2 separate regions of the Homo sapiens genome follow, and region 2 is linked to region 1. Evidence: fine-mapped expression QTL. A gene starts in region 1. The other region holds a variant in brackets. All regions are shown on one strand. Distances are between the middles of the regions. Region 1 holds the start of CD72 (CD72 molecule). Region 2 holds the start of LOC101926948 (a long non-coding RNA gene).

The links. PIP is the estimated chance that this variant, and not a neighbour inherited with it, causes the effect.
Region 2: its variant is fine-mapped to the expression of CD72 in sun-exposed skin (GTEx, PIP 0.91).

Annotation. Positions count from the first base shown.
Region 1 is chr9:35,616,828-35,619,726 of GRCh38, reverse strand. It overlaps CD72 (CD72 molecule), which reads left to right and starts at 1,314. Exons shown (of 9, transcript NM_001782.3): 1 at 1,314-1,505; 2 at 1,606-1,713; 3 at 2,480-2,551. The coding sequence starts at 1,424. RefSeq lists enhancers at 2,310-2,459, 2,899.
Region 2 is chr9:35,645,069-35,647,938 of GRCh38, reverse strand. LOC101926948 (a long non-coding RNA gene) reads right to left here and starts at 1,669. Exons shown (of 2, transcript NR_135130.1): 1 at 1,506-1,669; 2 at 463-1,249. It also overlaps a transcript of CD72 not described here. RefSeq lists an enhancer at 1,118-1,497. The variant C/G (reference allele first, on the strand shown) is at 1,366.

The sequences.
Region 1 (2,899 bases):
TCACAGATGCCCTAACAGACTGCAAAGTCCTGGGAACATGCATATCCATGCACACACATGCACACGTGCCTCTCTACAAGTACATTTTTGAGGTCACAGCTTTGCCTCAGTGGCCACTTCCTCTAGGGCTGGCTGGGCGGAGCTATTGGCAGAGCTCTAGGGTCCCTGGCAGTGTCCTGCCACACACCACCAATCATCCGAGCTGTTGGCATGTGGTGAGGACCTTTTCCCCCTTCCTTTTTCCTCCCCACAGCTGCAGGAGGGGGATTCTGCGGGGCGGATGTCACTTTGCTAGGGGCGGGTTCTTCCCACCCCCACACTACATCTTGTTCTAGCTCCTTCCTATCCCGGATGTAGGCCATTTTGGGGTTCCTAGTAGGGGTCACATCCCGGTAAAAGAACATTAGGGAGCACCTTTGGGCACCCCTGCTCAGCAGCCCCCTTTCCCCCAACTGGTTCCCTCTCTCCTCCATCAGCCAGGCCCCCACCACCTATGAGGGCCTCGCGGTCCCTGGGTCCTCCGCCACAAATGCCCCCTTTTTCCTTGGGGCTGGGTGGGAAGGGACAGCTTTGGGACTTTTTAAAGAAAGAACTTTGCTAGGAAAGTAAGAGACGAACCAAAACCAAACCAAGAAAATGTCAAGACCTCCGCTGGTCCGGAATCTGCGCTCGGCCTCTGGCTCTGTTCTGCTCCTCTGCCTTGACTTCACCTAGGAAGCTGCAGCCTTCTTAAGCCCTCTGCAACTCCCTTGCTCACCTGCTCCCTGGCTCCCCATGAGGGTGCATGGGGGGCAGTGCTGCCACTTGCCTTTCCAGAGGTGCTGCAGCCATGGCTCTTCCTTACCTTCACCTCTGGCCCAGGCCTGTTCCTGAACCCCCAGTTACTGGAACCCCCAGGATGATGAGAAGCGAGGGATGCAAACCAGGAACCCCCAGTCTCATGGGGAGAACGGAGCCTCACCCTGGAGCTGGGGAGATCGTCTGGGTCAGTGCAGCTCCAGCTACACATCATAAGCCCCAGTGGACAAGGCAGCCAGGAGGAGGGTGGGGCAGATCAGGGCAGATAACCAGAAGGACCGAGTTTGGGGCCCAGCATGGCCCATATGGGTTTAAGATGCATGGAGAGGAAGCACAGGGAGGACATGGGGACAGGCCCATCCCCTACCCCTGTGTTCTGGACCTCAGCGTCCCCTCCGTGGCCCCTCTGGCCCTGGCCCAGGGATGCCTTCTGCTTCATTGAGCCCATCTGTTTGAGACTTGCTAACACCTTCCTCTTTTGTGACTGGAAGTCACAGGGCCAATTGCTAAGCCGTGCAGTCACAGAGGGAACACAGAGCCTAGTTGTAAACGGACAGAGACGAGAGGGGCAAGGGAGGACAGTGGATGACAGGGAAGACGAGTGGGGGCAGAGCTGCTCAGGACCATGGCTGAGGCCATCACCTATGCAGATCTGAGGTTTGTGAAGGCTCCCCTGAAGAAGAGCATCTCCAGCCGGTTAGGACAGGGTAAGGGGGATGAGGCCTCCCCTTGATCCTGCATCCCCACTTCCCGCCCCACAGATCCCATTCCCAAATCCCACCTTGGTCCCTTTTCTCTTCTCTCTAGACCCAGGGGCTGATGATGATGGGGAAATCACCTACGAGAATGTTCAAGTGCCCGCAGTCCTAGGGGTGCCCTCAAGCTTGGCTTCTTCTGTACTAGGGGACAAAGCAGGTCTGGAGAGCCTGGGGGATGTGTGTTTGTTGGGGGGCTGTGTCTTGAGCTGGGGAGTCCACAATGTTTTTGTTGTTGTTCTTGAGACAGGGTCTTGTTCTGTCACTCAGGCTGGAGTGCAGTGGTGTGATCATGGCTCACTGCAGCCTCGACCTCCTGGGCTCAAGTGATCCTCCTGCCCTGGCCTCCCAAAGTGTTGGGATTGCAGGCGTGCGCCCCCATGCCATGGCCCTCAGTATTCTTGAGAGCACAATACCCTGGGGAAAGGAGGAGGGCGGTTCTTAGGAAACAGAAGAATAGGAACAGGATAAATGGGAGCCAGGGGAGGAAGAAAGATTCCTCCCGCAAGGTGGAGACCCCTTTCGGGGAGATAAGGGCTGCGGAGGGATAGGGCAGCCCTGTGGGGGATGAGTTCTAATGGGAAACGGGGAGCCATGGGAGGGAAAAGAGGTGATGGGAGATGGATGAGAGCAAAGGGGGAGAGGGTTTGGAGCCGACAGATAAGGGGCCTCTGAGGAAACGATAAAGGGAGAACTAGGAGAGATGAGGGGGTCCCGGGAAAAGATACAGTGAGACCCAGGAGGAAGCCGAGAGAGTCCCGGGCAGAGGAGGAACTCAGGAGAGTGACACTGTGTCCCAGAGCAGCTCTAGCAGGCAACGTAGGGCAGACTGGAGTTTCCCAGTGGCGAGGGCGAAGCGGGTGCGCAGGAGGAGAAGGGGCAACACTCGGGGCTTCCGGTCTCACACTGGATGCTCCCCTCGACAGCGGTCAAGTCGGAGCAGCCAACTGCGTCCTGGAGAGCCGTGACGTCACCAGCTGTCGGGCGGATTCTCCCCTGTGAGTGTGCCTGTGCGGGGCAGCCGCGGGGCCAAGTGCTCGCGCCTGTCCCGGCTGCGGATGGCGCTGGGCCCCGCGGGGTGCAGCTCCTTCCGGGATAAACCCGGGCGCAGTCCTTCCGACGCCCGGGCTGCCGTGCCACATTCACCTTCATCCGGTGCGCCTGAATCCGACGTGCACCGCCCCCCTGCGGATGGTCCCAATTCACCTACCTGCCCCCCTTCCCCTCTCTCCGTCTGATATTTCCTTCCCCTTCTCCCAGGTAACGCCCCCGAGTCCCCACCAGCACTGATTCTGGAACACCCTCTCCCCTACCTGCGAAACACCCCGCTACCCGACAGAAACCAC
Region 2 (2,870 bases), 28 kb before region 1:
AAGGCTATTGCAAGATTTGAGTGAGAGGGGATGGCGGCAGTAGCGGTAGGGATGCAGAGGAGGGATGGATTACAAAGAGATGTTTAGGGTTTTTTTTTTTTTTAAAGGCCCCACCTATCACATCTTCCAGATTTCTGGTTAGAGCCTGTAACACCCCCCAACCCAAATCCTCATCATCATAATACAGCATAGCTCCAAGTTGGTTTCAGCTCATCACCTTCCTCACCTGGCAATCTCTCTCTCTCTCTCTCTCTCTCTCTCTCTCTCTCTCACAAACACACACACACCCTCCACCCCTTAAGCCCATCTGTGATCCATCTGTCTAGCAAAAGCTCCAACCTGTCAAACCTCTTCTAGGATATTTCAAGGTCTAGACCATCTCCCCAGGGCCTCTGTAGAGGCGGGCCGCGCTTGACAGATCTTTCTGAGGCTTGAGGGGCTGAAGAAAGGAGAAGCTGAGGCTTTCACTTCCAAGCTTCTCTTCTTCCCACTTGGAGTGCCACAGGAAGCCACAGAGGAGGAACCCGTGCGCCTGATTCCTGCCTGGTGGTCCCAATTTGAAAGGGACCACCCTTCCCTTAAGCCCACCCCCCTACAGACCCCACAAATGCCCCTGGGTCCCTGGACCTCTGAGGACCCCACCCTGGGCCTCCCCAGGAGAGGCCCAGGTCGCGGTTAAGGGCAGGTAGCTGGGGATGCGGAGGAGGGAGGGAGGGAGGCTTCGGGGGCGGACACCGGATGCGGGGAACCACCGGCAGCGGGATGTGGGGTTCTGAGGGCTGCGGTGCTTCTGAAGATGGCTCAGCGTCGCGCCAGGTGGACGTGAGAGCTTTACCCTGGAGGAGGCGGGGGTTGGAGTCCCGCCTACCCACTGGGACAAGCCAAGGGGTCAAACGCCCCCAACCCAGCCCGCAGATCTCCTCGAAGCACCCGGTTCTCCTGGCCCGCCCAGACCCACGGCGCTCGCCGCCTTCGCCCGCTTAGGACTGAGTCCGCAGCGCCGCCGCCTGGCGAGGGGCGGAGTTGCCACCACTTCTGCGCAGGCGGGATGCAGCCTGGCCCGCGGCATCCCGGGAGTTGTAGTCTCGACGCTTCGGGGCCACCCCAGGGTCTGGTCCCTGACGACGCGCAGTGAGGGCCCCGCCGCTACCCCAGCAGTCGCCTCCCAAGTTCGCGGAACGCAGCTGACCGGCTCCCTCTGGACTGGGTGACATGACTGCTCCCAAGCAGTCGTTTGTAAACTGAGTTTCTGTAAAACAATTTTATTTTTCATATGTGACTGTAGCGGGGTATGATTTGAACTTTGTTTTCCGTCCCCCAGCCCGGATTCTCTGTCTTCTCCTGTACAGCCGTTCCGTTTTCTTA[C/G]CTCGTCTCCGTCACCGAGGCCCTCAGCCCTGAACACAAGGACTGGGCAGTTTCCCTATTGATTCCTGAACCTGGAACTTAAGACATCTTCCGAGGGGCCCCCCCTTGCCACACCCTCTAGCTGATCGACTCACAAATACCTGTGATTTCTCTCCCCGTCTCCACCTCCAGGTACTTCCCTAGTGGACTCCTTTCCCTCACCGGCGTAGCATTCCAGCCAGAAGGAGTGCCCGTCCTAGCGCCCCGTTCCCAGGGACAGACCCTCAGGGGGAGCTCCTAGGGCCCCAGCTGTCCCTCCTCTTTCTTAAAGCCTAGCTAGGAGGATAGGGACACATTGAAAACGGAAGAGGGAGGGTCTCCGGGACAGTCAAAGGTTCAACAGCAGGAAGTTCTTTTTTTTTTTCTTTTTTTTTGAGGCGAAGTCTTGCTCCTGTCGCCCAGGCTGGAGTGCAATGGCACGATCTCGGCTCACTGCAACCTCCGCCTCCCAGGTTCAAGAGATTCTCCTGCCTCAGCCTCCTGAGTAGCTGGGAATACAGACGCCCGCCAACACTCCCGGCTAATTATTTTTGTATTTTTAGTAGAGAGAGGGTTTCGCCATGTTGGGCAGGCTGGTGAACTCCTGACTTCAGGTGATCCGCCCACCTAGACCTCCCAAAGTGCTGGGATTACAGGCTTGAGCCACCGAGCCTGGCCAGGTTCTTAAGAAATTACTTATAGGTGGGGAGGGTCTTTGGAAGCCATCCGGCCAGGGCACCTCCATCTTTGGCCCTGCTCTGTAGTCTCTCAAAGATGGGTTTAAACTTCCAGCTTGGTTTTCTTACAAGGAGGGAAACAGAGCTGGGTTGTGGAGAGAAACCAAGTGTTTTTTAATTCTTAATTTTTATGGGTACATAGTAGGTGTATGTATTTATAGAGTACATGAGATATTTTGATATACGCATACAATGCATAATACAGACCAAGTTTTTTTTTGTTTGTTTTTGTTTTTTGAGACGGAGTCTTGTTCTGTTGCCCAAGCTGGAGTGCAGTGGTGCAACCTCGGCTCACTGCAACCTCTACCTCTTGGGTTCAAGCGATTCTCCTGCCTCAGCCTCCCTAGTAGCTGGGACTACAGGTGTGCACCACCATGCCCTGCTAATTTTTGTATTTTTAATAGAGACGGGGTTTCACCGTGTTGGCCAGGCCGGTCTCCAACTCCTGACCTCAAGTGATCCACCCGCTGGGATTACAGGCGTGAGCCACAGCGCCTGGCCCAGACCGAGTCTTAATGACTTCATTTGAAACCTTGAATCTAGACATGCCCAGAGCTATATTTGCCTTCTGAACTTTTTGGCTATGTAAGCTAATGAATTCCTTTTTTTTTTTTTTTTTGAGACGGAGTTTCGCTCTTGTTGCCCAGGCTGAAGTGCAGTGGCGAGATCTCGGCTCACTGCAACCTCCGCCTCCTGGGTTCAAGCGATTCTTCTGCCTCAACCTCCCGAGTAGCTGGGAATACAGGCATG